7 linked regions of the Homo sapiens genome follow. The protein of the gene in region 4 interacts with the protein of the main gene of each other region in a biochemical or structural test. Each region holds a gene or a part of one and is shown on either strand. Other genes may lie near its edges. The genes, in order: LNX1, DLG4, SNTA1, TTC24, MAST2, HTRA1 and SIPA1L2.

What was found.
Region 1: the proteins of TTC24 (region 4) and LNX1 interact in a test that uses a peptide from one of them, tested with the Homo sapiens proteins (one large-scale study listed by IntAct).
Region 2: the proteins of TTC24 (region 4) and DLG4 interact in a test that uses a peptide from one of them, tested with the Homo sapiens proteins (one large-scale study listed by IntAct).
Region 3: the proteins of TTC24 (region 4) and SNTA1 interact in a test that uses a peptide from one of them, tested with the Homo sapiens proteins (one large-scale study listed by IntAct).
Region 5: the proteins of TTC24 (region 4) and MAST2 interact in a test that uses a peptide from one of them, tested with the Homo sapiens proteins (one large-scale study listed by IntAct).
Region 6: the proteins of TTC24 (region 4) and HTRA1 interact in a test that uses a peptide from one of them, tested with the Homo sapiens proteins (one large-scale study listed by IntAct).
Region 7: the proteins of TTC24 (region 4) and SIPA1L2 interact in a test that uses a peptide from one of them, tested with the Homo sapiens proteins (one large-scale study listed by IntAct).

What each region holds. Positions count from the first base shown.
Region 1 is NC_000004.12:53,479,987-53,484,324, forward strand, and holds part of LNX1 (E3 ubiquitin-protein ligase LNX), read right to left. Parts: intron 1,869-4,338; coding exon 1,734-1,868; intron 1-1,733.
Region 2 is NC_000017.11:7,197,033-7,201,370, reverse strand, and holds part of DLG4 (disks large homolog 4), read left to right. Parts: intron 1-4,318; coding exon 4,319-4,338. UniProt on the Homo sapiens protein: Postsynaptic scaffolding protein that plays a critical role in synaptogenesis and synaptic plasticity by providing a platform for the postsynaptic clustering of crucial synaptic proteins.
Region 3 is NC_000020.11:33,433,485-33,437,822, forward strand, and holds part of SNTA1 (alpha-1-syntrophin), read right to left. Parts: intron 1-4,338. UniProt on the Homo sapiens protein: Adapter protein that binds to and probably organizes the subcellular localization of a variety of membrane proteins. May link various receptors to the actin cytoskeleton and the extracellular matrix via the dystrophin glycoprotein complex.
Region 4 is NC_000001.11:156,578,453-156,582,522, reverse strand, and holds the start of TTC24 (tetratricopeptide repeat protein 24), read right to left. Parts: upstream 2,801-4,070; 5' UTR 2,765-2,800; intron 1,163-2,764; 5' UTR 1,159-1,162; coding exon 453-1,158; intron 293-452; coding exon 89-292; intron 1-88.
Region 5 is NC_000001.11:46,016,363-46,020,700, reverse strand, and holds part of MAST2 (microtubule-associated serine/threonine-protein kinase 2), read right to left. Parts: intron 1,106-4,338; coding exon 1,004-1,105; intron 1-1,003. UniProt on the Homo sapiens protein: Appears to link the dystrophin/utrophin network with microtubule filaments via the syntrophins. Phosphorylation of DMD or UTRN may modulate their affinities for associated proteins. Functions in a multi-protein complex in spermatid maturation.
Region 6 is NC_000010.11:122,464,061-122,468,398, reverse strand, and holds part of HTRA1 (serine protease HTRA1 precursor), read right to left. Parts: intron 1-4,338. UniProt on the Homo sapiens protein: Serine protease with a variety of targets, including extracellular matrix proteins such as fibronectin. HTRA1-generated fibronectin fragments further induce synovial cells to up-regulate MMP1 and MMP3 production.
Region 7 is NC_000001.11:232,623,058-232,627,395, forward strand, and holds part of SIPA1L2 (signal-induced proliferation-associated 1-like protein 2), read right to left. Parts: intron 1-4,338.

The sequences.
Region 1 (4,338 bases), on a different chromosome or scaffold from region 4:
TTGATGCCTAGCATTCCTTAACTTTTTTAATTGGCTAAAAGTTTTCTGTCCCACAAATCCTGCTTTGTCTTCTTTGGTATTTCTTTGAATTGTTTAAGCTCTTATTTTTAAAAAGCTACCTGGTTTCCTAAACCAAACAAGATTTTAGTAAGAATATAAAAACTGAAATAATCAAAGAGCCATATATGTCTCAGTTTTTTTAAATATGTTACTTTTTTGTGAGGATATTTCAGAAGTCAGATAGAATATAAGTTAAAACGGAAATAATTACAATTCCGACTAAGTCAGTTTGCACGTTTCCAGGAATTAAGACATATGACAGAGGGTTGCAGCAGAAATGTGACCAGATCCTCCCAGCTCTTTCATGATGAGGAGGTGGAAGGAATTCTAAAACCACAGTGCAGATGGAGGCTACCTTCTCCATAATTTGATGACTTAGAATATGACGTATTCTAGTTAATTCAACTAAAATTAGTTAATTGGATAAAAACTTCAATTAATTAATTAAGCTAATAAACTAGTTTTTCATTAATAAAGATGATCAGTTAAATTTAAACATTAAGCATTTACTAGCAAAAAGACATCACGGAGTCCTTATCCATAAAATGTTTTAGCAGGATATATCTGGTCTGTCTAGACTCCTTATTGTAGAGAAACAGGTAATTTATGGATTTATGAGGCTTGGCTGGCTGGAGAACCTGGAGGGGTGTATAACCTTGTAGGCTATGTAATTAACATAGTATAAAGCAGAGATGTTCCAAAATAAAAAATTTGAATATTGTTTCTCTATATATTACTCAAAAACTCAATTTGTAAGCTATTCCAACCAACATATAGATTGACGTAGAAAGAAAAGGGCATTCCCTACTTTCTGTTGCAAGAAGAATGAGCTACCTTTAAGAATTTTTTTTAGTTACAAGTGATGCCATGAAACCAGAACTCAGGAGAGATGACTGAAAGAAGCTCATCAGCATCACAACAGGATGCCAAGCCAAAGCTATAGGACTCTTAATTTGGACTAAACAAGGTTTGTGTTGCTTAAACACGCATCCAAATGAAGAGGTTAAGGCATTGCCTCTAATAGAAGCCACAGAGAGAAGTACAAATTGGGCTGAGTCACTTCATTTAAAGTGAGGCTGCAAACTGGTGGCCTGAAGAATGAATTCCACCCACAGATCCACAGTGTTTTAGAGTTTTCTGGATTTGAATGCCATATAACATGTGCTCTCTGGTTTGCCCCAATCCCCACCACTCCCTAATGTTACATGAGCTTCAAGTGTTTAAATTATCTTCCTGGGCCCTTCGGCAAACACAAACAAAAACTAAAAGTAGCGGGGAAATCACTCATTTCTAGGCAGACTGAAAAATTCAAAAGCCAGAAACCAGGCAAACTGCTTGCTTCATTTCAAAGTGAATAAAATAAGTCCTCAAACAAGATGACTCTTGGTAAAAACATGCCATTTATTTGGCTTAGGCTAGAAATCAGGTCCCTGTATGAGGTCTGCATGATCAGGTTTCAAAACTTTCCTGCACCTTCTTCTCTCCTGCTTGGATGGGAGACACCTGTTATCTCTCCAAGTCTTAAATATGGGACTTTGGGCTTTTAGTTTTACAAGTCAAAGTGTTTCTTTAAGTAAAAAAGTCCAGAGATGACACTTAGACATGTTAAAACAAGCAGCCTTCCCAAGAAATAGCCCCTTGCAGGAGCAGGCGACCTGCCCTAGAGGCCTCACCTTGGGAGTGTTGCTCCTCTCCCCTGGCCCTGGGGACCAGCTGCCATTGCTGTTCCAGCCGGCTTCCTGAAAGATGTCAGGGCTCCGCTGCCGAACCTGGCGGGACACGACGAGGTGAACACGTCTTTCACTGGCCTGGGCAAGAAGACACAGGCATTAGCCACTGTCAGTTTCCATCCACTGCATTCAGCACCAGGAGCTTACAAAAACATCACTTTGATTATACCATTTTTTTATGGCAAAACATGATTTCTAGTTTGTTGGGTTTTTTTGTTACTATCCATCTTGTAATTTGCCAAGAGCATGAGAGCTCTTTCCTTTATCCTTAAACCAGGTAGTAAATGTTGCTCCAAGGGAAAACTAGGGAAGGTTTGGTTCCTTCCAATCTTTGAAAAGGCATCATCAGATATTGCTAATTCATTTTTAATTAATGGTTGTACCACACACAAGCCATGCCCTAAGTTCTTCCCAGATAGAATTAGGTGCACTGTGTAAAGTAGCAGCCCAAAGCAAAGATCTAAGATCAATGGTACACAGTAAAGAAAAAGAGATGGAGTTAATGGCAGTAACTTGCCACTGCAGGAAGAGAAATCCTGAGCCTGACACTTGCAAATATTTGGGCATAGGAAAGGTTTAGCACTTTAGAAATATGGGGATGACTTCATACATTAATATGTACAACCTAATCAAAATCCTTTACCTTCAATTCACAATCACAAAGACATGGAATCAACTTAAGTGCCCATCAACTGATAGGTAGATAAAGAAAATGTGGTATGTATATACCATGGAATACTACTCAGCCACAAAAAAGAATGAAAAAATGTCTTTTGCAGCAACTTGGATGGAACTGGAGGCCATTATTTTAAGTGAAGTAACAGAGGAATGGAAAATCAAATACTGCATGTTCTCACTTGTAAGTGGGAGCTTAGCTCTGGAGATGCAGAGGCAGAGTAATATAATGGACTTTGGAGACTCAGAAAAGGGGAGGGTGAGTGGGGTGAGGGATGAAAAACTGCCTATTTGGTACAGTGTACACTATTCAGGTGACAGGTGCACTAAAATCTCAGACTTCACCACCATACAATGCATCCATGTAACCAAAAACCACGTGTATTCCTAAAGCTATTGAAATACAAAATGTTTAAAAAACTGCAAAAGAGTAATTTGCCTTGATTTCTTTATTTTTTATGGAACTACCAGTTACTCTGCTAATTCTCTCTGCTATGTACATTGATATTTGGACAGGCATTCAGAATAGCAAATATAGTACTTATTGGAAAGGTCCACTCCACATCATCGATATGGTTTGACTGTGTCCCCAGTCAAACTTCACCTTGAATTGTAGCTCCCATAATTCCCATATGTCATCGGAGGGACCTGGCAGGAGGTAACTGATTCATGGGGGTGGGTCTTTCCCATGCTGTTCTCGAGATAGTAAGTCTCACGAGATCTGATGATTTTATAAATGGGAGTTCCCCTGCACAGGCTCTCTTGTCTGCCACCATGTAAGACATCCCTTTGCTCTTCCTTCATCTTCCACCATGACTGAGAGGCCTCCCCAGCCATGTAAAACTGTGAGTTCATTAAACCTTTATAAATGACCCATTCTCGGGTATGTCTTTAATAGCAGCATGAGAGCAGACAAATACAATGATACATTTACAAATTGTCTTTCTGCCACAGATTAGTTTCACATGTGTCAGGTAGTATGGGCCATTATTCCAGAATTGCTGACCATTGAGATTTCAGAGCTGCAGGTCATTCAGACTAAATCTTAGACCTATGAAACTCACATAAATAGAGCTCTCTGGTGGCCTAGGCTGAAGTAGCCAGCTGACCTCATTTATCACTTTAGTAAAAGTTGAAAATGAATGAGATATGGAAGATTTGATTAGAAAGATTCCCAAGACAGACCTGGTTTAGGGACAAGGGAGATGGAAGAGAGAGGAGTAAGGTTTGGTGGTTCCTCTCTTCATCCCATCCCTTGCCCACTCACCACCACAACAGAGAAGGGGCAGTGACCTGCCAGCTTTCTTCCTATACAGGGATGGTTATTGGGCTAGGGGAGAAAGGTCATGAAATGAGGGCATTGAAATTCCATGCTCTTTTGCATTGACTCAGACAATGGTGGTGGAGATATTTTCTTCCTGCCTGCTATGGTCTGAACATGTTTCCCCAAAATTCAGATGTTAAAATCCTAACCCACAACACGGCAGCATTTGGAGGTAGGGCCTTTGGGAGGTGATTAGGTCATGAAGGCAGGTCCCTCCTAAGGGGATTACAGCCCTTATGAAAGGGGCTGGAGGAATCTTGTTTGCCCCTCTACCATGTAAGGACAAAGTGAGATGGTGCCATCTGTGAGGAAGTAGCCATCCCCAGACACCAAACCGGCTAGTGTCTTGATCTTTGACTTCTTGACCTCCAGAACTGTGAGAAATAAATTTATGTTGTTTACAAGCCACCTAGGATAGTGTATTTTGTTATAGCAGCATGAATGGACTAAGACAATGCCTTTTCTGCATCTTCATTCCCAGAGCACACAACTCACTCACTCTCAGGAACTAGGACCTTGTTTTAAAAATCTCAAGTAAACACTTTGGGA
Region 2 (4,338 bases), on a different chromosome or scaffold from region 4:
GACAGAATTGCCCCAGCGAAATTATGGTGGTTGAGAATCACTGCTTTAGAGATTTCAGACAGTGTAACAAGACAAGGAGAATAGTTACATTTGGAAGGGAAAAACAAAAGTTATCTCTATTTGTAAATTATACTACTGTGCATCTAGATCAAAATCTAAGTGAATTAACTGGAAAAATATGCAAAGTTAAGAATGTGGCTATTTGTTGGCTGGGCGAGGTGGCTCATGCCTGTAATCCCAACACTTTGGGAGGCCAAGGCGGGCGGATCACCTGAGGTCAGGAGTTTGAGAACAGCCTGGCCAACATGGAGAAACGCTGTCTCTACTAAAAATACAAAAAAAAATTAGCTGGGTGTGGTGGCGAGCGCCTGTAATACCAGCTAATCCTGAGGCTGAGACAGGAGAATTCCTTGACCCTGGGAGGCGGAGCTTGCAGTGAGCCAAGATCTCACCACTGCACTCCAGCCTGGGCGATAGAGCGAGACTCCATCTCAAAAAAAAAAAAAAAAAAAAACCAAAACAGGCTGGGCGCGCCGGTGGCTCATGCCTGTAATCCCAGCACTTTGGGAGGCCGAGATGGGTGAGTCACCTGAGGTTGGGAGTTCGAGACCAGCCTAACCAACATGGAGAAACCCCATCTCTACTAAAAATACAAAATTAGCCGGGCATGGTGGTGCATGCCTGCAATCCCAGCTACTCAGGAGGCTGAGGCAGGAGAATTGCTTGAACCTGGGAGGCGGAGGTTGCGGCGAGCTGAGATCGCGCCATTGCACTCCAGCCTGGGCAACAAGAGTGAAACTCTGTCTCAAAAAACGACAAAAAAAAAAAGGAATGTGGCTATTTGTAAGATAAATAACAGGAATTAGTAACTTCCCAGCAATAAGAAAATGTAGTGAATAAAAAGCCCCCTTTTGCCATAGAAAAAATTTCTATAAAATTATTAGAAATAGAAACTTGACAAGAAATGTAAGATTTGTATGAAGAAAATGACAAAACTTTACTGAAAGACATAAAACAAGACTGGAAGGGGTGAGGAGTCACACCGTGTCTCTGGATGGAAAAACTTAATATGCTAAAGATCTCAACCGGCTCCAAATTAATCTACATTCCATTCAATCCTAATCAGAATTTTAATGTTGTTTCCCTACTGGGAACTTGGAAGGTTGACACTAAAGTTTGACTGGAAAAATTTGTGTGGAAAAGCTAAGACATTTTGGAAACAAATAATGAGGTGTGGCAGCCCCTACAAAATATGAAATAATACTGTAAAACCATATTAAAATCATGTGGTACTATTCCTAAATACCATAACCTAACAAAAGGAACCTGGGCTCCTTGGAAGAAGGGTCAATTTAAAATCTTTTTTTTTCTTTTCTTTTTTTTTTTTTTTTGAGACGGAGTCTCGCTCTGTCGCCCAGGCTGGAGTGCAGTGGCACGATCTTGGCTCACTGCAAGCTCCGCCTCCCGGGTTCATGCCATTCTCCTGCCTCAGCCTCCCGAGTAGCTGGGACTACAGGTGCCCACCACCACGCCTGGCTAATTTTTTTGTATATTTTAGTAGAGATGGGGTTTCACCGTGATAGCCAGGATGGTCTTGATCTCCTGACCTCATGATCCCCCCACCTCGGCCTCCCAAAGTGCTGGGATTACAGGCCTGAGCCACCGTGCCCAGCCAATTTAAAATCTTTGGCAATAAATCTGTAAGATGAGCTTCTAACTTCTTTCATACTAGAGAGCAAGGAAGGTATCCAGGACTAATAGGGTCTCAGCAAAGACACAGGATCCAAACTGAAGGTGCTTCTACTGTCCAGTGAAAACTCGTTAAATATATTAAAATCTTTAAGATCATAATAATACTTAAAAATATTTTGGCTGGGCGCGGTGGCTCATGCCTGTAATCTCAGCACTTTGGGAGGTTGAGGCAGGCGGATCACCTGAGGTCAGGAGTTCGAGACCAGCCCGCCCAACATGGCGAAACCCCGTCTCTACTAAAAATACAAAAAATTAGCCAGGCGTGGTGGTGGGTGCCTGTAATCCTAGCTGCTGGAGAGGTTGAGGTGGGAGAATCCCTTGAACCTGGGAGGCAGAGGTTGCAGTGAGCCAAGATCGCACCACTGCACACCAGCCTGGGCGACAAGAGTGAAACTCCATCCCAAAAAAATAAATAATTAAAAAAAAAATTGGAGGATGCTAGGCAATCTCATTCATTCTGAAATTGGTGAATGAATGGAAAGAGGCATGCAGAGAGAGGCATGCATTTATCCTCCCTTTCATGTACCAGCTACCTCAGAGAGTAACCAACAGGTTGACATAGGGCTGTTTTTTTGTTTTTGTTTTTGCTTTTTTTTTGTTGGAGGCAGGTCTTGCTTTGTCACCCAGCAGGCTGGAGTGCAGTGGTGTGATCTTGGCTCACTGCAACTTCCGCCTCCTGGGCTCAAGCGATCCTCCCACCTCAGCCTCCCGAGTAGCTGGGATTACAGGCGAGTGCCATCATGCTCAGCTAACTTTTTTTTTTTTTTTTTTGAGATGGAGTCTCACTCTGTCACCCAGGCTGGAGTGCAGTGGCACGATCTTGGCTCACTGCAACCTCTGCCGCCCGGGTTCCAGCAATTCTCCTGCCTCAGCCTCCCGAGTAGCTGGGATTACAGGGCCCTGCCACTGCGCCCAGCTAATTTTTGTACTTTTAGTACAGATGGGATTTCACCATCTTGGCCAGGCTGGTTTTGAACTCCTGACCTTGTGATCCACCTGCCTCGGCCTCCCAAAGTGCTGGGATTACAGGCGTGAGCCACTGCGCCCAGCCTCAGCTAACTTTCAACTTTTGTCTTTTGTAGAGATAGGGTTTCACCATGTTACCCAAGCTGGAGGAATTTTTTTTTTTTTTTTTTGAGAGGGAGTCTCGCTCTGTCACCCAGGCTGGAGTGCAGTGGCACAATCTTGGCTCCTTGCAACCTCCGCCTCCTGGGTTCAAGCAATTCTCCTGCCTCAGCCTCCCGAGTACCTGAGATTATAGACGTAAGCCAGCACGCCCAGCCTATTTTTGTATTTTTAGTAGAGACGGGATTTCACCATGTTAGCCAGGCTGGTCTCAAAGTCTTAACCTCAAGTGATCTGCCTGCCTTGGCCTCCACAGTGCTGGGATTACAGGCATGAGCCATCGTGCCTGGTCGAGATTTTTCTTTTTTACAGAAGAATTCCCACTAGTAAATGACAATCACCACCATTTTGCAGTCCTTGATACTTATCAGAACCAGGCGGTGATTGTCAGTGTGGCTAAAACTTACCTGAAAGGCTGATGGGGCGCTAGATAATGGATGGACTGGGCTGATGACCCTGAACCTACCATTAATCTTACCTGACAGAAAGACAACCAGGCATTATTGCATCCTGTGGTGATGCTGTAGGAAGAACGTAGCGCTACCTATGAAGTATACAGGAGTTACTAAAAAAAACTCTGAATTGAACTTGAAACTGATCAAGCCTCCAGAATGAACTGCCAGTTTACAGGAGATACAGGGGCAGAGGCATAGGCTAAACAAACCACAGGAGGGTAAGCAGTAATTTCCCTGTTAGAATTTCCCTCATAGGCTGGTCAAGGTGGCTCATGCCTGTAATCCCAGCACTTTGGGAGGCATAAGCGGGTGGATCATTTGAGTTCAGAAGTTCCAGACCAGCCTGGACAACATGGTGAAACACTGTCTCTACTAAAAATACAAAAATTAGCTGGGCATGGTGGCGCGCGCCTGTAATCCCAGCTACTTGGGAGGCTGAGGCATGAGAATCACTTGAACCTGGGAGGCAGAGGCTGCAGTGAGCCAAGATCACGGCACTGCACTCCAGCCTGAGACTCCTTCTCAAAAAAACCCCAAAAAAACAAAAGAATTTCCCTCATAGAATGTGGGAAATTCTTTTAGACAAATGACCTAGTTTTTTCAACGAATGGATGGCAGAGAGGTGGGGGGAAAAAAGAGGGAGAAGAATTTTATGGATTAAGAGATTCGAGTGACACAGGAACCCAGAGAAAACCCCCAAAGCGTAATATTAATGCTCCCTTTGACTTCCCCATCCCTGGCATACTGAGGACATATAACGTTCAAATCCTTTATCCCCTAGGACAACCAGCCTCTGATGTCACCTATAAATTCCTGACCCCTGATGTCACTGTGATCTGATATCCCCTTACCACCCCACCCTGGCATCTCTGGCAGAATATCTTCCCTTCCACCTAACTTTGGCTCTTCTGGCACCCTGGGGAGAAGGTTGGGTGGCGGGTGCTGTTTCCCTCCAGGCACTTTCATCTCTGCCCTGTCTTCCTCAGCTTATTCCCAGCACCTGGAC
Region 3 (4,338 bases), on a different chromosome or scaffold from region 4:
TCGAACCCCTGACCTCAGTTGATCTGCCTGCCTCAGCCTCCCAAAGTGCTAGGATTACAGGCATGAGTCACCGCGCCCAGCCAGCATTATTTTTAATGCATGACAGGCTCACTGTTGTCACAGTCCTGCCAGCCACACTGGAATGGGAGGAGGGAAGGGTGTTTTCCTTGAGGCTGTCCCTCCCTCTTCCCCCAGGCCTGGCCTTCAAGGGCCCAGGCTGGCCCTGGCTTGAGGTCTGCACACACAACGGGCCTCTCGAAGCAGCGGACAGACACTTGTTGGCTGCCAACTTGGGCCCAGACTGTGGTCACAAACACACCCCTCTGGCTGAGAACAGGATCAGGACATTTCTGCAAACCCCTGACCTAGTAGAAGAAATGTTCTAGGAGGCAGGTTGGGGTTGCTGAGGCTCAGCTGAGCCCCCAACTTAGGCCAGGGAAGTAAGGCTCTAGCTGACACCTGGAGTTTGCTGGTAATGCTTGTTCTCCCAGGACATCCTCAGGGGATTCACTATCCACTGAGCTGGAAAAATATCCAGTTGCCTTGCCAAGTTCACATCCAAAGGACAGGCCATCCTTCCATGGCCCCTTGGAGGCGTCCTCAGTAATGGGATGTGAGTGGGGAAATGTTGAACAATGTGGTCAGTGATTCAACTCCGGGGAAACCTAGGCCCAGAGAGGGTCCCAGGAACCCTGGCTGCTCCAGACTGGTGCAACTGCCAGGCCCAGACCTTCTCCACTCCCCAAAGTCTCAAGGACCAGCCACAGCCCAGCATCCTCCTATCCTTCAGACCTCTCTGATCACTCTTGCCATTCAGAGATTCCTGACTCCAGTGCCTTCCACCACTCCTCCTCCCCTCTTTGTGCTATCTTGAGTGGAATGACCTCCTTCCATGAGATCTTGGGCCAGGAGAATAGGTCGAAAAAGACTTCAACTAAGGAAAAGTGGGGAAAAACATGAAGGCCACATTCTTCTTTCTCTTACCCAGGCCATAGGCAGGGTTCACCAAGGAATGATCTCGTCCTGTGAAACATCTCAGAGAATATAAGAGCAGGGGCCCCTCAGTCCTGGGATGATACACATGTTACTTCTCTACTGCATCTGTAGTAGACATTGCTAATCAATTCCAGCTCCTTTCTGCTGAGCCCAGACAAAGCCTCCCAATCCTTCCAAATATGGAACTCACAGAACCACCAGTGGAGCTGACGCTTACACTCTTTTTTTTTTTTTTCCTACAGAGATGAAATCTCACTGTGTTGCCCAAGCTGGTCTCGAACTCCTGGGCTCAAGTGATCTGCCCACCTAAGCCTCCCAAAGTGTTGGGATTACAGGCGTAAGCCACCACGCCTGCCTGGAGCTGCCACTCTAAATAAAAGCTATTGATCACCTCTGATCTAGCCTAACTTCAATAGGAAAACTGAGTCCCCTAGAAGGCAAGGGTCTTACCCAAGGCCAAACAGAGATTTATTGCAGAGCAGACAGGATTTCAGGCACCAGCTTTTTTTTTTTTTTTTTTTTTTTTTTTGAGATGGATTCTTGCTCTTGTCGCCCAGGCTGGAGTGCAGCGGCACAATCACGGCTCACTGCAACCTCCGCCTCCCGTGTTCAAGATTTTCCTACCTCAGCCTCCTGAGTAGCTGGGATTACAGGCACGCGCCACCATGGCTCAGCTAATTTTTGTATTTTTAGTAGAGACGGGGTTTCGCCATGTTGGCCAGGCTGGTCTCAAACTCCTGGCCTCAGGTGATCCACCCGCCTCAGCCTCCCAAAGTGCTGGGATTACAGGCGTGAGTCACAGCACCTAGCCACCGGCTTTTAAAGAGTTTCTGTAGGCCAGGCATGGTGGCTCACGTCTGTAATCCCAGCACTTTGGGAGGCCCAGGCAGGCAGATCACTGAGGCCGGGAGTTCGAGACCAGCCTGGCCAACATGGCAAAACCCTGTCTCTACTAAAAATACAAAAATTAACCAGGCCGTGGTGGTGCACACCTGTAATTCCAGCTACAGAACTGAGGCAGAGAATCGCTTGAACCTGGGAGAAGGAGGTTGCAGTAAGCTGAGATCGCACTACTGCACTCCAGCCTGGGCAACAGAGTGAGACCCTGCCTCAAGAAAAAAACACAGTTTGTGTAGAGGAGATAGTGTTTATGTTTTGTCTACCCTACCACATGGTGAGCTCCTTCAGGAGAGGCCCTGGGTGTAGTTTAGCTTCTGACCTTAATATACACAGCAGGCACACAGTAGATGTCCATGAATGTCTCTTGGCTTAGTGAGGAGGAATGCATGACATGAGTTAGAGGGAAGGCTTGAGTATTCACTCCTAAAGTCAGAAGATGCTTCAAGGTCACACATTTACAGATACTACCTTCTCAAAACGACATACATGGGAACCCAGATAGATACATTTTTAATCTAAAGATGAGGAGGTGGGCCGGGCGCGGTGGCTCACGCGTGTAATCCCAGCACTTTGGGAGGCCGGGGCGGGCAGATCACAAGGTCAGGAGATCGAGACCATCCTGGCTAACACGGTGAAACCACATCTCTACTAATAATACAAAAAATTAGCCAGGCGTGGTGGCGGGCACCTGTAGTCCCAGCTACTTGGGAGGCTGAGCAGGAGAATGGCGTGAACCCGGGAGGCGGAGCTTGCAGTGAGCCGAGATCCCGCCACTGCACTCCAACCTGGGTGACAGAGCAAGACTCTGTCTCAAAAATATAAATAAATAAAAATAAAAAATAAAGATGAGGAGGTGAGGGGACCTCCGTGTGAATGTGGATTTGAATTGTGTCTATAGCAGAAATTTTACCATAGACTAAACTTTCAAACAACAGAAGCTAAAAGAGCTTTCAAGTCAACTAAAATATGACATTTCGATGAATGTCAGTGGTTTCAAACCGCATTGCTGACTATAAATATCAAAGTAATGAGGCATGTGGGGAAAGTCTCTTATATCCATATCATTTATGTGGCATTCTATTATTTAACTTTGCCATTAAAATATGATTGATACACTTAAGCTTCTAAGGATCAACACTCTAGAGTCAGCTTTTTTTAAGTATCAAAAAAATGCATCTAGACTGGGCACTGTGGCCTGCAATCCCAGCACTTTGGGAGACTTAGGTGGGAGGATCCCTTAAGCCCAGGAGTTGGAGACCAGCCCAGGCAACATGGTGAAACCCTGTCTCTACAAAAAATTGGCTAGGTGTGGTGGCTCACGCCTGTAATCCCAGCACTTTGGGAGGCCGAGGCAGGCAGATCACGAGGTCAGGAGTTCGAGACCAGCCTGGCCAATATGGTGAAACCCTGTCTCTACTAAAAATACAAAAAAAAAATTAGCCAGGCGTGGTAGTGCGCACCTGTAGTCCCAGCTACTCGGAAGGCTAAGGCAGAAGAATCGCTTGAACCTGGAAGGCGGAGGATGCAGTGAGCCAAGATCGCGCCACTGCTCCAGCCTGGGCGACAGAGTAAGACTCCATCTCAAAAAAAAAAAAAAAAAAAAGCTAGGCGCAGGGGCTCACACCTGTAATCCCAGCACTTTTGGAGGCTGAGGCAGGTGGATCACAAGCTCAGGAGTTTGAGACCAGCCTGGCCAATATGGTGAAACCTCATCTCTACTAAAAATAAAAAAATTAGCCGGGCATGGTGGTGGGTGCCTGTAATCCCAGCTACTCAGGAGGCGGAGGCAGAAGAATTGCTTGAACCCGGGAGACGGAGGTTGCAGTGAGCCGAGATCATGCCACTGCACTCCAGCCTGGGCAACAGAGTGAGACTCCATCTCAGAAAAAAAAAAAAATTAACCAGGTGTGGTGGCATGCATCTGTAGTCCCAGCCACTCAGGAGGTTGAGGTGGGAGGATTGTTTGAGCCCCGGGGGGTGGAGGGTGCATTGAGCCAAGATCATACTACTGTACTCCAGCCTGGGTGATAGAGCAAGACCCTGTCTCGAAAAAAAAAAAAAACAAGAAAAAAAAATGCATCCATGGCATTTAAATAGATATACCTAAAATATAAAATAAAACTTTACATTTTATTTTCTTTATTTAAATTTTATTTTATTTTATATCTGGGTCAACCAAGGACCGAGAACCTATTTGCTTCTGTGGCCTCTTGGACACTCCTTTAGGGAAACCAAGGCAACCCACCAGGATTTGGGCCTGGGACTCAACTCAGCAGCTTCTCTGGCCGTGTTATTCTCCATCAGCCCCCGCCACCTCCCTGTGCCTGTTCTGGGCCATAAGCCAGAGACACATTCCTCAGGCCCCCACGGGGCTTCCAGAGCTGACAGAGTTTGAGGAAAGGGCTGAGCAAAGCAGAAACCTCTTGAGAGACATGGCACAAG
Region 4 (4,070 bases):
GGCCATCCACCCTTAAGCCTTGGGCCCCTTTTGGAACCCCTTCTTAGTGTCTTAGTCCCAGTCCCATTCCCCGGCCCCAGGCACCCACCGTGTAGGTCAGCAGCCTTCTGGTGAAACTCCCGAGCTTCCTGATAGTTGCCGAGGGCATTGTGGGCCATCCCGAGGTTTCTTAGCACTGTGGCCTGCTCTCCTGGCACCCAGCACAGGGGCAGGGCCTGCAGGAAGGCCTCCACGGCCAGCGGGAACAGCTGGAGCTGGGAGTAGCCCAGGCCTAGATCGTTATAGAGGTGCCCTAGAGGGAATAGCCAGGGTCACTGGTAGCCAGACCAGATATAAATGAGGCTGGTACAGCCCCTATCGACTCCTCCAGGGTTCCCCAAACCCAGCCCTCTGAGTATCATCAGGCTCTGTGTCTCCCCAGATCCCATGCCTTCCCTGCCCGAAGGTCTCACCCAGCAGTCGCCTCTCAGTGCTCCTCTCGGCAAGCCTCCGGCTTTTCTCCAGCACCTGCACAACTTCCCCCACCCGATGCCGCCCACTCTTCAGCATACATCCTGCCGCAGCCCCCAGTGCCAGGGCTGCGGCCCGCAGCTGTCTCTCTTGAGCATAGGCCTGGCTTGCTTCCTGCAGGCAGTGGGCTGCTAGCTCAGGCTGTCCCAGAGCCTGGTAGCAGGCTCCCATTTTTGCCCAGGCTTCTCCCTGGTCACCCTGTGGCTGGTAGTGGCCCAGGGCCCTGTGGTACCAGGCCAAAGCTTGAGGCAGCTCGCCGAGGGCATGGTAGGCCAAAGCCACATTGAAACATTGGTCGCCGTGTCGCCTGCCCTGTGCCTTCTCTTCAGGGTGGGCTCGCAGGAGTAGCTCAAGGCCTCTGGCTGGGTCCCCAGTCTCCACATAGGCAGCCCCCAGGTTGAAGGCGCAGGCCTGGAGCACAGGGGTATCCCTGGTTTGTGGGGCCTTGGAGGCCAGAAGGAAGGCCCTCTGGAAGTTGTTCAAGGCTTCATGGTTCTGGCCAGCCTGAAGGGCCCCATGGCCAGCCCTGGTGAGGGCTTGGATGCTGGCTTCTTGCCGCAGCCACTTTCTTTTCTTCTTTTTCTTATTGGAGCTTGAGGGCTCAGGTTCTGGCCTCCGGGGCACATCCTCAGGGTTGGGGGAAGACATAGGGCTGACAAAGGGGAACAGAGGGCTCAGTATGTCAGCCTTGGCTTCCTCTAGATAGCAGGACCCCCTTAGGGCAATTCAGCTCTACCCCTGCCCTAGCATGACCCTCAGGGTTTCAAGGATTGCTCTCTGATCTCTCACTTTGTTTCTTCTGTCCCATTGGGCACCATATCCACTCTCACTCTAACTTCCTGACTAATTCTTAGTCCTCCTTCAAGACTCAAGTCAAGTAACAGCTTACTTCAGAACGCACCTTCTTCTCAACCAACTGGGTACTCCTGTGGTCCCATAGCACTTGATGCCTATGTCTTTTATAGCATTTATCACACTGGGTCAGAGCTGATGACTTTATTGTCTTCCCCCCACTACTAGATTTGGAGCAACTTGCAGGGTCTGGCACACAGTAGATTCTCAATAAATGTTTATGAAAGGAGATGAAAAAGTTCTGGAGATGGATAGTGGTGTTAATTGCACAATAATGTGAGTGTACTTAATGCCACTGAACTGCACATTTTAAAATGGTTAAAATGGTAAATTGTATGTTATGTATATGTTACCACCATACGAGTGTTTTTGGATTGAACAAATAGGCCAGGTGCGATGGCTCACACCAGTAATCCCAGCATTTTGGGAGGCTGAGGTGGGCAGATCACGAGGTCAAGAGATAGAGACCAGCCTGGCCAACATGGTAAAACCCCGTCTCTACTAAAAATACAAAAATTAGCCGGGCGTGGTGGCGGGCGCCTGTAATCCCAGCTACTCGGGAGGCTGAGGCAGGAGAATTGCTTGAACCCGGGAGGTGGAGGTTGCAGTGAGCTGAGATCGCGCCATTGCACTCCAGCCTGGGTGACAGAGAAACTCTGTCTCAAAAAAAGCTGCAAATAAATAGATGAAGGAACCGCATATGCAGGGCCTCTCCTCCATAACTTCCTTCACACTGTGCCTCCACAGACACCCCCCTCACTCATCATCTAGGTACTCCTGCTATCTAATCTCAAGACGTAGTTCAGGTCAGTTCAACAAGCACTCAGTGAGCCCCTGCTATGTGCTAGGAACCACACTAGGCACTGGGGACCCTAGGGTGAGGAGGCTCCTGAATTGGCAAGGAGCGAACCTCCAGGAGAGAAGGATTTTCTGAAAAGGAGTGTGGTGTGGGACAGAACATGCATTTACTGCCCCTTCCCTAGCTCAAGGGGAAGCTCTCTCTCCATTTCTTCCGCTTTCTGTCTGCTGGCTGGTTCTAGGCCCCCAGCCTCCTGCTCTGGTCTCCAGAGCCCTCTTAAACCTGAATACAAGCATCTCAGCAGCTTGTATATCCTGTTTGTATTTTTCCCCTTGAAGGGCAAAAGCTTTTTATGAACTCTCCTCCCAGGAGATGGGAAAAAGAGTGGAAAAGACCCAGGCCCTGGGCTCTTGACCCCTCCCATTTTATCCTTTTTTTCCCCTTTTTTAGGAGGGGCAGGCAGAGGAAAAGCAGTCTCTTTTAAAAGAAATTCCCCCTGCTTCTAAGAACACCCAGAAATCCTGCCTTTTCAAGGCCTTCCACTCCAGGGCATTCCTGACCACCCCCATCCAGTGTGGGGATCCCCACTGCAGGACACCTTACCTCCTTGGGTCTTCTCCGCAGCTGGCTCTCTGGAATGGCCCCTCTGGCTTGGGTTACCTCCCAAGCTGTTAGCTCAAAGCCCTAGAGGTTACTAGACAACCAGGTACCACCCTCCAGTCGTAGGGAATTATTTGAGTGACAGCTCTGAAGCCGTATCTTAGTGCTAAACCTCGGTAGTGCTGCAGACACACCCCCTCAAGTCCCTCACTTCAAGAAATGAATCAAGGCATCAGAGGGGCGCTTACTAGTTACACCCTCAGAAATCATCTACTTCATCCCCTCATTTCACAGAGGAAGGGACCAAGCCTCAGACAGCAGATGTGACTTAACTAAGGTCACAGAGCAGTCACGTAGCTGGGGTTAGACTCTATGTTTTTTTTTGAGATGGAGTCTCACTCTATCACCCAGGCTGGAGTGCAGTGGCGCCATCTCGGCTCACTGCAACCGCTGCCTCCCGGGCTCAAGTGATCAAGTGATTCTCCTGCCTCAGCCTCCTGAGGAGCTGGGATTACAGGTGCACGCCACCACAACCAGCTCATTTTTGTATTTTTAGTAGAGAAGGGGTTTCACCATGTTGGCCAGGCTGGTCTCGAACTCCTGACCTCAAGTGATCTGGCTGCCTTGGCCTCCCAAAGTGCTAGGATTACAGGTGTGAGCCACTGCACCCCGTCTTTTTTTTTTTTTTTTTTTTTTGAGACGGAATCTTGCTGTGTTGCCTAGGCTGGAGTGCAGTGGTGCAATCTCAGCTCACTGCAACCTCTGCCTCCTGGGTTCAAGCCGTTCTCCTGCCTCAGCCTCCTGAGTAGCTGGGATTACAGGTGCCTGCCATCACACCTGGCTAATTTTTGTATTTTTGTATAGACTGGGTTTCCCCATGTTGGCCAGGCTGGTCTTGAACTCCTGACCTCAGGTGATCTGCCTGCCTCTGCCTCCCAAAGTGCTAGGATTACAGGCATGAGCCACCACGCCCAGCCAACTCTAGGTTTTTTGATTCAAGGTGAGTAGCCTAGGGTCCCTTCCACTACACTGTGTGATTGCAAGTTGTTTTTTTTGTTTGTGTGTTTGTTTTTGAGACAGAATCTTGCTCTGTCATCTAGGCTGAAGTGCCTAGATGATCACAGCTCACTGCAGCCTCTACCTCCTGGGCTCAAGCGATCTTCCCACCTCAGCCTCCCAAGTAGCTGGGACCACAGGCATGTGCCACCACACCTGGCTAATAATAATAATAATAATAATTATTATTATTATTATTATTATTATTATTATTATTATAGAGATGGGGTTTTGATATGTTGCCCAGGATGGT
Region 5 (4,338 bases), about 110 Mb from region 4:
GGAGGAAGAGAGGACTGACTTCAAAGGGGCACAAGGGAACTTATATGACAGAAATATTCTCTATGTCAGCTGTGGCCACGATTCTACAAGTGTGTATTTGTTAAATCTCAATGAACTGTACCATCAAAGGGATATATTTTATTGTATGAAAATTATACCTTAATAATATTTTTTAAGAAAAAAGTAAATGCGGCCATGTCACATTCTTACCTAAACTTTCTGGTGTCTCCAAGTGGCCGTAAGGGTAATGAAAAACTCCAGAGCCGAGAACCCGACACCCTCCATGACCCTGTCACAGCCTACCTTCCAGGCTTACCCCTCAGCACTTCTTCAAACCCACCCTGTGCCCCACTGAATGCTCCTTCCCATGCTCCCGATCTGGGAAACTTAGACTCATCCTTCAGTTTGCTGAATAAGCCTCACGTCCCCCAGGGAGCATTCACTGAATGTTCCTTCCAGGGAAGACTAAAGCACTTCCTTTTCCAGGTTCCCGTTACGCTGTGTACTGACCTCAACTGCAACACTTCTTGCAGTATTGTAATTACTATTTACATGTCCTCATGCCTCATGCTTCCCAACTCCACTGTAGAGGAAACATCCCAAGATCAGAGACTGTGCTTTATTCATGTCTGTATCTCCAGTGTCTAGCAGGAAGTAGGTACTCAGTCAAGTATTGCTGAAGATAAAATGAAGGACTCAACTTGTACAAACTAAACTGGGCTATGCTCCTGACGCTTCTCACCCCCAAGACCCCCACTGATGTGAGCCCTGCTCATGTGGGGGTGGCCTAGACTAATAATTCTCCCTGCCGCATCCCCTCAGGACCATACATTTGTCCTCACAAAAACCTGTTTAGTCCCCCAATGGTGGCAAATCATATTTAAATAAGGACCTAAGCAACAGAAATGGCAGTGGTTACCACCACAGTTTTGCTGTCATCAGGATACTTCCTCTATAGTCCTCCTCTAAATCTGCCCACCTGACTTTCCTAGAGTCCACTCACCAGGCATTCCAGGAGACGTGCTGGGCGGGCAATGATAATCATCAGCTTTTTCACCAGCTGCATCACAAAAGCCACTTCTGAGCTCTCTGAGCGCTCATGAGCCTATAGAGAAAAGAAGCGTTGCTTAATCTATTGGCCCAGTGTGGCTGGGCTAAGCAGGACCAGACAGGGCAGAGCTGACTCCAGGGAGAAACAATTCGGTAGCATAGAGAGCTCCGCAAAGCAAGGAACTCAGAGAAGGCTGGCTGGCTGTGAGAGGGAGCGAGTTGCTCATAGGGAACCATTTCTGCTTTAGAACACTACATGACACCAAGAAATGCCACACAGACATACAGCTGTACCTGCTCCTCCATCCAACAAGCCTCACTTACCCTCCAGACCCTAGCTCAAGGGGCAGCTCTCAATGGTGCCTTCACTGATGTTCACTTTCCACCCTAGACTGTAAGGAGTAGAAAGACCTCAAAGCTGAGGAGTCATATGACCAGAAAGTACTTCAGAAGGATCACTCTGGCTGCAGTGTAGAGAGTACACTAAAGAGGGCAAGGCTAAATGCAGGAAAACCCATTAGCAGGCAACTCTAATAATTCAGATGAAAAAGGCATAGGTCAAGGCAGAAGAATGCAGACAAGGGGATAGACGTGGGTTACTACAGAAGCAGATAAGGGGTGAAAGAAGCACGACAGAAGGCAACTACAACTTCAATTTTAGGAAAATTACAATGAATAAGTGAAATAGTAACTATAAGAAGCCATTTAGGTGATAGGTAAAGAATGTACTGCATTTGGTTTTAGAGAAAGAACAGCTAGGCAGAAAAGATAAGCTCAGTTCTGGGCGTGCAGTTTCAGGCACCTATATGAGAGTCTCTTGGGTATCTGCTTGGCCGATGGGCCTTTCTCTTTTTTCCTGAGAACTGCTCTGGTTTCTAGGAGCCACATTTGTACTGTGTGTCTGTACCTTCCCTCCCACCTCTAATAGCTGACCAGAGAGGATCACTTTCCTAGGAATTTAAAAAAGGATAGAAAGACAACTGTTAACGTCAGTGTGGCAGAACCGTTTAAGAACTGTGAAAAGAGATGCATACCTACCATGGAAATAGAGGAAAAGATGCATACAGAAAAAGGAAGAATGAAGACTTCCTGAGCTTCCTGGAGCTTCTGGTTTCTAGTTCTGGTTCCTTCTTAAGGCCTGGTTATATCCCTCGCTTCAATTCTCTAAGACCTACTCCTTTTACTCTTATAATGTTTCCCTTTACTGTTTAAACTATTCTGAATCAGTTTCTATTACGTGCAACCAAAGAATAAGAACCAATATAGGGAAGTCAAAGTGGAGGAGTCCAGCAGGCAGCTGGGTGCACTGATCTGAAGCTCAGGAGAACAGTAAGAGTGGCAGCCACATGTGGGAGTCCTCAGCGTAGAGATGACAACTGAAGACATGGGAGCAGGTGGCAAGACATCAGAGAGAGAGTGGAGGAAAGAGAAAGGGGAGACCAGGCATGCCGGATGGTGCCCTGTGACACACCAGTAGGAAGAGGTGGGCAGCAAAGGAACTTGTGAAGAGGCAGCAAGAGTGGTGAGAACAGTGAATTGACAACTGGGGAAGGAAGTTTAGGAAGTATTCACTGTGCTCCACCGAGAGGTGGCAGAAGATGGGAACTGAAAGTGGCCACAGGATTTGGCAATTGGCCAGTGAGTTCCTTGGTGAATTTTGCCTGAACAGTTTTGGTAGACTGGTGGGAAGGGAAACTGGAAGGCAGAAGATTGAGTAGTAAATAGGATACAAGGAAAGAAAAACAGTAAATGCTATTGTGAATAGTGCCGCAATAAACATACGTGTGCATGTGTCTTTATAGCAGCATGATTTATAGTCCTTTGGGTATATACCCAGTAATGGGATGGCTGGGTCAAATGGTATTTCTAGTTCTAGATCCCTGAGGAATCGCCCCACTGACTTCCACAATGGTTGAACTAGTTTACAGTCCCACCAACAGTATAAAAGTGTTCCTATTTCTCCACATCCTCTCCAGCACCTGTTGTTTCCTGACTTTTTAATGATTGCCATTCTAACTGGTGTGAGATGGTATCTCATTGTGGTTTTGATTTGCATTTCTCTGATGGCCAGTGATGGTGAGCATTTTTTCATGTGTTTTTTGGCTGCATAAATGTCTTCTTTTGAGAAGTGTCTGCTCATGTCCTTCGCCCACTTTTTGATGGGGTTGTTTTTTTCTTGTAAATTTGAGTTCATTGTAGATTCTGGATATTAGCCCTTTGTCAGATGAGTAGGTTGCGAAAATTTTCTCCCATTTTGTAGGTTGCCTGTTCCCTCTGATGGTAGTTTCTTTTGCTGTGCAGCAGCTCTTTCGTTTAATTAGATCCCATTTGTCAATTTTGGCTTTTGTTGCCATTGCTTTTGGTGCTTTAGACATGAAGTCCTTGCCCAAGCCTATGTCCTGAATGGTAATGCCTAGGTTTTCTTCTAGGGTTTTTATGGTTTTAGGTCTAACGTTTAAGTCTTTAATCCATCTTGAATTAATTTTTATATAAGGTGTACGGAAGGGATCCAATTTCAGCTTTCTACATATGGCTAGCCAGTTTTCTCAGCACCATTTATTAAATAGGGAATCCTTTCCCCATTGCTTATTTTTCTCAGGTTTGTCAAAGATCAGATAGTTGTAGATATGCAGCGTTATTTCTGAGGGCTCTGTTCTGTTCCATTGATCTATATCTCTGTTTTGGTACCAGTACCATGCTGTTTTGGTTACTGTAGCCTTGTAGTATAGTTTGAAGTCAGGTAGCATGATGCCTCCAGCTTTGTTCTTTTGGCTTAGGATTGACTTGGCGATGCGGGCTCTTTTTTGGTTCCATATGAACTTTAAAGTAGTTTTTTCTAATTCTGTGAAGAAAGTCATTGGTAGCTTGATGGGGATGGTGTTGAATCTATAAAAATTACCTTGGGCAGTATGGCCATTTTCACGATATTGATTCTTCCTACCCATGAGCATGGAATGCTCTTCCATTTGTTTGTATCCTATTTCACTGAGCAGTGGTTTGTAGTTCTCCTTGAAGAGGTCCTTCACGTCCCTTGTAAGTTGGATTCCTAGGTATTTTATTCTCTTTGAAGCAATTGTGAATGGGAGTTCACTCATGATTTGGCTGTTTGTCTGTTATTGGTGTATAAGAATGCTTGTGATTTTTGTACATTGATTTTGTATCCTGAGACTTTGCTGAAGTTGCTTATCAGCTTAAGGAGATTTTGGGCTGAGACAATGGGGTTTTCTAGATATACAATCATGTCATCTGGAAACAGGGACAATTTGACTTCCTCTTTTCCTAATTGAA
Region 6 (4,338 bases), on a different chromosome or scaffold from region 4:
GACAACACGCTAATATTGCCTGAGTTCTAGCAATGCATCAGGCACAGTGCTTTGCGTTTCATATAAGGAGGTCCTTCCATTCTGCAATGCCCTAAGAGCTACGTATGTATCTGCTATTACTTCTCTTATCTTACTGATGGGGAAACTGAGACTTAGAGATGAAGTCACCCAAGAAACACCACACATCCAGAAAATGGCAATCCGACTTCAGAAGCCCAGCCCTTAAGCTGAGCATCATACTATCTACCACGAGTACCTTGAGATCAGGGGCCACCAGCCCTTACCTCTGAGTCCCCATACCTGATACACTTCTGAGCACACAGTAGGTGTTAAATAAATGCTCTGAATGAATTTAGAAATGGAACTCTCAGCACTGACTCCAAAAACTGAACTCTGCATCTTTCCGGCAGTGATGGACATGCCTCTTCGCAGCCACTTACTTCTGTCCTGAGGCGTGTTGTCCTGGCTAATGTCCCCCTGTGGTTCTAGGCACACGTCACCAAGTAGTGCTGAATCACTGTAACTTCCATGCCACTTCCAGGAGCCTTTTGGAAACACATTCAGAATGGCTACACTTCTCGGTTTCTCTATTAATAGGATTTTTCTCTTTCTTCTTTTTTTTTTAACGGCAGAGAAGGTGGAGAAGGAAAAGATGAAATGACACAAGGGTATCTCACTTCAGATGACCCAAAGGCCTTGGAGCCCCAGGGAAGGAGCAAGGGGTATGAGTCTCGTGGAAGCTCATCTCTTGGAGATGAACATGTCACCCCTGTGGTCTCCCGGGGACTTCAGCAGCCAGTACAAAGCTGAAACACAAAGCAACCAGGCTCAAGATGGATCACATCTATTCGATGCCAGCCTTGGCTTTAACCATCAATAATTTAGGAAAAAGAAGTAGCTCATAAGGAAGCCTCCCCAGGCTTTAAATTAGGAATGAGGTGACCACAACCTCCTCAAAGACTTGTTTTCTTAGAAAAATCCCAGACCATTCTAGTTAAAAGGAGCCTCAGAGATCAACTGGCCCAATCCCCTCACTGCCGAGGCTCCGAGAGGTCGAGGGAGCTGTTACCTGGTCAGGTAACACCCCAGGAAGGGCCAGAGCCGCTTGCCCTCAGCCCCTCCGCCCCAGTTGGCCTTCCAAGGAACCCTCACCCACTGCCAAGCTTACTTCTTCTTCAAATTAAGCCTGACCAGAGCTATTTATTCACTTGAAATATAAGCTCATGGAAAGTCTGATTTCTGAATCCAAGGCATGAAACTCATCCAGGATCACACAGCTCCAAACGGAGAATCCAGCCCCAAAGCGGAGGCCATCAGGCTTCTGACCACAGTTAGCTCATGGTGCCCGCCACCATCACTTACTCAATGCAGTTATTTTAAGTTCCAATGCAACCCATTTACAGCTCTCTCAGTGGAATGAAGTAACTCAAACACTTGGTTTTTGAGCTTGTTAACTTCCTAATTTTATGAAGCCTTAATATTTTAACTCTTTAGCAAAACCAACAGAGCAATAAAAGAAGGCAGCCGACCAGAGCAGGCAGAGACTCATAAACTGCTCAAAAGACCTCCAAGTTTCCAAGTTTCAGGTGACTAAAAGCTGGAGACTCACAAATGTTTCCACCCACCCTGCCCTAAGATGAAGCTCAGGTCCCTGGCACACTTGTTTTTTAACTGACAAAAGGTGTATTTGAATTGCCAATAGTGAAAATGACTCTCGAGCAAACTGCCCACTTTAACAATGGAAAAATACAACCCCAGGGAAGCAGTGATTGTATTTTCCCCCATTGTATTGAATATAAGTTACCTGTGGGCAGTGACTTTGTTTTATTCAACCCTGTCTCCCCAGAGCTCAGTACAGGGTCAGCACTCAGCTAGCAATGATTGCTTGTTTGAGGTTCCCACGAAAGAGTCACCTAAATAAAGTACATTTTGGCACGGGTGCAGTGGCTCACTCCTGTAATCCCAGCACTTTGGGAGGCCAAAGCGGGCGGATCACAAGGTCAGGAGATGGAGACCATCCTGGCTAACACGGTGAAACCCCGTCTCTACCAAAAAATACAAAAAAATTAGCTGGGCGTGGTGGCGGGTGCCTGTAGTCCCAGCTACTCTGGAGGCTAAGGCAGGAGAATGGCATGAACCCGGGAGGTGGAGCTTGCAGTGAGCCGAGATCGCGCCACTGCACTCCAGCGTAGGCGACAGAACGAGACACTGTCTCAAAAAAAAAAGTAAATTTTACAAACATTCCAGGGCTCCAAGAAGTAAAGCAACCATCTAAGCCCTTGGTTCTTCACCAGGTATGTACATACAGCCTCTGCCTTTAGAGGCTCTGGGGTGAGACCAGGAGCAGGCGATCCTAAAAACCTCCAGGGGTGGAGTTTCTGGGCACCCCTGCAGCTTGCAGACCTCCAAGCTTGTCTGGGCTGCTGCATGGAGTAGGGTGGGCTTTCCTGGAGGATGTACTAGCAGGAGAAATGGATGAGGCTTCTGCTGTTTGGGAAGTCTGTTTCAGGTCTCGTTCCTGGCTTCTTGTCCATGTTTTAGCAGAGGTCCGGAATCCCGGCTGGTCTTTTGGGACATGGGGGAATCTGGAAGGGCTTTCTCTCTTCAAGAGCAGTTTGTCTGGATCTCTGGCTTGGAAACAGCCTTCCTACAGTCCCTCGGCTCTTTTTGCTTTTCTTTAGTGAGGGCTGCACTGACGGCAACTGGAGGCAACCTTGTCTTCAGGCTCCTGAGCCTGCAGAGTGAAGGCTGTGATCTGTCCTGTTCCATCTCTAAGCCACAGCCATCTGGAGCCCTGTTTATTTCAGCTATTAGCTGGGGCTTAGCTGGGGTTGGTTTAAAATCTCTGTTGCTCTGTCAACAGCACAGCATGGTGGTTATGAACGAGGCTCTCCATCCAGTTGTGTGGGACCACCAGTCCTGAGCAAGGTACTTCTCTGTGACTTAGCTGCCCAGCTGTAACCCAGGGAAGACTACAGCACTCACTCATAGGACTGTCCGGAGGATCAAATGAATTAGTATGCACCCGGCATAGAATAAGCACAACATATATGTTAGCCCTCATTATTAGTACCCTATTAGTATTTCAATTCCTTTCTTTTTTGTAATCATCTGACCAGTACAGCTGGAGATGACAGATCTTTGTTCTCTAGCTGAATTGTATACTTTCCCATCCAAACCCTGCCAGTGCATTGACTTCTGAAATAGATGATTTGCCTTCATTTCCAGAGCGGTGAGCAGAGATGTTCTCTGAGGTCTATTCAATAAACAGCTTACAGATGAAAGTGCTTTCCTTTGAATGGTGACATGTTCCTCTATCCAAAGATCTACTGTGACCCAAAGTGCTAGTCACCTCCCTGGGGACCCCTGATCTGATGACATTTCTACCTCTCATCCCCTGGCATGCTCTGCCCCAGACAAAGCCACCTTATAATATTTGAAATCGCAGCACCCGCTCCTGCCTCGAGAGCTCTGTCTCCAGATCCGTGTATGACTTGCTCCAACTCCAGGCCTCTAGTCAAGTGGCACCCCTAGAAAAGGCTCATGTCCATGGCAGCTAAAGTGACTCTCCCGCCAATCTTCCAGCCAGAGCAGGCAGCCAATTCACCTCATTTAACAGTGACGTCAAGTGACCTGCCCGTGGGCACCAGCTGTTGAGTCCTGGAGCCTGGCTTGGACTGAATGAAGTCTGCTGGCTCCCAGGCGCCTGTCCTCGGAAACACCTCCGAAAAGTCAAGGGTGGAGTGTGAGATCCAGAGAGGGGGCGCAGCAAAGCAGTGCCTTCCACTAAGGAAAAACAGAATGGCTGTGTATCGCAAGCACCTCCCGTTTGTCTTCATTCATTCATTTATTCATTCACTAATCCACTCGTACCAAGTACCTCCGATGTGCCAGACAGACAAACATGCAAACGGTGTCAGACACCCTACAGAGCTCAATAAATATTTGCAAAAGAAGGAGGGAGGGATAAGAAAAGCATTGTACCCACTCTGTCTCTCCCTCCTTTCAAAGCCACCATGCTTATCCCTCTGTGGCTGTCCCCTCACTGGTACACCGGGGGCCCGCTGTGAGCCCGATGGCCAATGGGGGACCTGTTTTCCTCCACACAGGGACTCAGCCAACTCCAAAACTTGTTAAGCAACTTGCCTCACTAGCAATAAATTAGGCGGCTCGCATGGTGCCAGCAACTCAGGACCCCGTGCGATGAGACCACAAACAGCGAGACCAGTAACAGCTGGCTTGTTTTGGACAAAAACATGCTTTTTCAATGTTGTCGCCTCACACCCAGATTATTGCAGTAGTCTAAACTCTCCACCCTGGATGCATTCCGCACTCCAC
Region 7 (4,338 bases), about 76 Mb from region 4:
GGGTGGGGGTGGATGGTGCTCGTTTAGCTGGAAGTTACTGGAGATACAAGAGCAGGGCTCCCTGCTGTCTCTCCTCACTCATTCCCAACCCACTAACGGCTGGGAAGCCAGGCATTCCTTGCACTACGGGTGGCTGTGTGCTACAGTTCTGGCCAATCACATACAGACAGAGCTAGGCTGTCAATCTGAACTTTTAACATACCCTGATCCTGGGAATGCTTTCGTCTGAGTGTGATAGTATGATGCTTCTTAAACAGCTGAGTTCAGAACAGGCACAGTGGCTCACGCCTGTAATCCCAGCACTCTGGGAGGCCGAGGCGGGCAGATCACGAGGTCAGGAGATCGAGACCATCCTGGCTAACATGGTGAAACTCCGTCTCTACTAAAAATACAAAAAAAAATTAGCTAGGCATGGTGGCAGGCACCTGTAGTCCCAGCTTCTTGGGAGGCTGAGGCAGGAGAATGGCAGCAACCCAGGAGGCAGAGCTTGCAGTGAGCCAAGATCGCACCACTGCACTCCAGCCTGGGTGACAGTGCGAGACTCTGTCTCAAAAAACAAAACAAAACAAAACAAAAAAACAGCTGAGTTCAATTAGAAACTTTCTAAGGAGAATAGCATCGCCATTACATTAACCTCCTACCCCTCAATAAATGAAACCCCAAACCAAGACCCACAAGCAATTCTGGAAGAAAACAGGCCAAAGTCAGAAATGTCTTCGGGAAAAAGAATAAATACACAGTAAATATAAGGCCCATCAAGAGTGGAGTTTGTCTTCCGCTTGCCTCACAAGACCCTACAGGCTCCCTAGAAATTCCATTTCTCAACTGCTATAAACTCTAACCAGTGATAGTACAACAGTGGTCTCTACACAGGGGCCACACATTTCAAAGATACAAATGCCCTTGAGATGCAGAGAAAATACTTCTACATCTATTTATTTTTAATATTAATCTTCTTAAAATGTACATTTGTTTTATGTCCATAATATCTTAGCACAGTAAAGTATATGTTTATACATACAGATATATTATACATATACACACACACAAACGTGCATGCAGATATGTATACATGTATACGCATACATACATGAACACTTAGACAATTGTGTATAGATGGGATGCACGTTGAAAAAAGTTTGAGAACCTTGAGAACCTGCTAAAAAGAAACCACTGTTTCTTGCATTAGGCCATTTAAACACCTGAAACAGGTAGCATTTGCCCTGTACAAAGAATCAAAACTATAATTCCTAAAATTACTTATTAGAAACTTCAATACGGAGAGGACAGTATCCCAAAGCTATTCCTGAACAATGTGAATACCCACTGTTCAACAAGGAACCAAATGTGTTATCAAAACCACCTCCAGAAGACAGTGAAAGTAGTTATGCTGACTTCACAGGACACTATGTCTTAAGCATTAACCAGAACTTTCTTTTAAAACTCCACACAATAGTTCATCTCAGCAGACATAATCTTTTATTCACCCAGGAGTTCTTACTTTCCACAATAACAATTTTTAACACTGGCTCTTTACCTAGATATTTTTACTTAAGAGTTTGAATAAACTACCAGATAGCTTACTTCGGACTGTTCTGATTTCTTGAGGAACTCAACTAAATGGGGATATTTCTCAGAAGATTAAGCAAATATGTAGAAGTGAAAAATATGGAGTAATCTAATGGGCAGAGTTCAAGACACCCCTTTTGGCTAAATGTTTATTAGTAAAATAGGAAGAGAAGTATATCAACCAATTAAAACAAAACCGGAAGAGACTGTGGTGTTCTTCCCCACTATCTGAAAGCAATTCAACACAAGAGAATACCAAACCAAAAAATAAGCTGAAGAAAGTCCAACAATATTCTGATTTTTCCTAGAAGCACTGCAGTTCCTAAGGCCTCCGGAGGTCACAGATCACAGTGTGACCCTAGTGTCTCAATCCAGTCAGTCATTTAACACATTTTCTTAATCATATGCAGAAGAGAGTGCTCGTTACTAGGGACACACTGAAAATGAACTCATTATTACTCAGCATAACTTGGTCAGTAGAACCAGCAAAGGAGGTTTGACACACTCTTTCAGGATATCCATGTGGAAAGGTGGAGCTATATGGGCTAGTTATAAGATATGAAGAGCATTAGTAGTTAACTATAACCGAGAGTGTGACTCCTTGTAAGCCTCGAGGGAAGCTTCCAGAGACACACTTCGTGTTGTTCAGCCAGTTTAACAATTTCATCACCGGCTTAAGTAAAGATATAAAAGAGTCTGATCTAATAATGTACAGACAGCATTTCTTTGGGAGGACAGGTAAAGGTGCCAAATAATATAATCAAATTCTAAAAAGCATGATGGAAAGAATCAGCTAAAATAAAGCAAAACCACAGCGCAATAAATGTTAGGTTTTGCAATGACATCAGCGCAAGATGGAAAGACGAGGTTCAATGGCAGCATGTGATTAACGGCTCGGCAGGTTTTAGCGAAAAGGAAACTCGTTGAGTCTGGCCACCAGAAAAGTAAATGCAAACTTGGACTACATCAGTGCAAGCAACATGCAACCTATGACAAGACACTCCTGCTGTACTCTACACAGGTCATGTTCACGGGTCACGTTACACCAAGAGCCCAACTCTGACAGAGACTGAAGGATTTGTTCTGTAGGCCACCAAGGCAGTAGAATTTGAATAAACAAGCAGAATCAGATTTCAATTCTATAGGCCAAAAAACTTTCTAGTACTCAAAACCATTAAAAGGTGGAAATCACCACCCGTTACTTGCAATGTTCAGGTATTACCGGAAGACCACTTACAGAGATTATATAAAAGGATCCAAATATCAAAGAAGGGTTAGTTGAGCTACTCAGTGATTTCTAAACCCCGGTCCTTAGTGAATTTTTCATTGACCCATGCAAAAGAAAAAAGTGTCTGTGTGGGGATAGATATAAATCCACGAGTGGGGTAATTTTAACACAGCTCCTCTCTGGATAGGAAGAACTCTCCTTTAAGTCTGACAGCATACATATTCTTCCCCCTTTCCCCACCTTTTCTCTTTTTTGGTACATCAAAAGGATTTTGACGAAATGCATTGACAATAGGTAGTAACTGCTGTTGTCAATTTTAAACACACTTATGTAGCAACATTAAATGCTGACATATCTGACAATCCCTAATATTTGCTTTTTTTTTTTTTTTTCATTTTACAGGTAGACGAAAACAAAAGGTATAGGAACAACATGACGAGACAATCTTTAAGGTCCTTTCTGGCCCAAAGGAGCATGACAACTAGACTCGACTTGCTGCATATTTTCTTCCTTCCTACCACCCAACTTGGCTATCTAGTACTGGGGGAGAAGAACGAACCAAGGAATTGGGTTGCACTAAATATGAAATCTCTCAAGAAGCAGAACCTCAACAGTGAGTCAAGATCTGGCTCCCTTCTACAGCTGCTGTTCTTTGGAACCAAAGTTTATGAATCCAGTTCAGAAAGGATCAAAATAATCTATGTCTAAAGTTGGGAAGCTTTTAAATTCCTACCACATTGTTACCACACTTTTAAAAGGAGTCACAGCTACATGCAACTGGAACACAAAAAGCAATTTCTGAATCATTGATTTCAAGGTAAACCAAGTAGCTATGACCCTCATGCAAAGCATTCACATACAAACTTACTATAGGCCAAGGCAAAGAAATGACATAATCATGAAAAATATAAACATCCCAGTCAGACAGGCATTTTCATTACTCTAATGCGTTCGTCTTAAACCTTAAAGAAACCCCAAATTTTGGTGCTGAAAGGGATCATGAAAATAGTTTCATCCAAATTCATTTGTGACAGGTGGTAGAGGCAGGAAGCTCAAGGTTCCTGTCTGTGCCTAAAGCTTTTTCTACTCTCACTCTGCAAATGAATTAGGCACATTAACAGAAGTAGAAAACCTAGAACATGGTTCACTATTCTCTAGGACTGTACTTTGTATTTCATTGAAGTTCAAAACAGAAAGAAAAAAAAAAGCAGCTTTTCAATTAACAATACCCTAGTCTAAATTTTCTTCAAATTCAGTGTGTCTTTAAAAGGATTTGTAATCCTCAACTACCACCATAAATTGATCAGAAGTTCAAAAACTCAATGCCTTCCTCAATCTCAAAAAATAACGCTGCATTTACCAATTATGGTTGGGGGCAAGGGGCTGTATCCACATAAACACATAGTTCTTTGCAAAGTATGCAGGAAACACAATCCCTTTAAACTAGTTTCGATGCCCAAACACAGTGCTTTTAAACCAGTTTCAATTACCAAACAACTGGTTTTTCAGGGTAGCTAGTATTTCCTTACTTTCAGAAATAG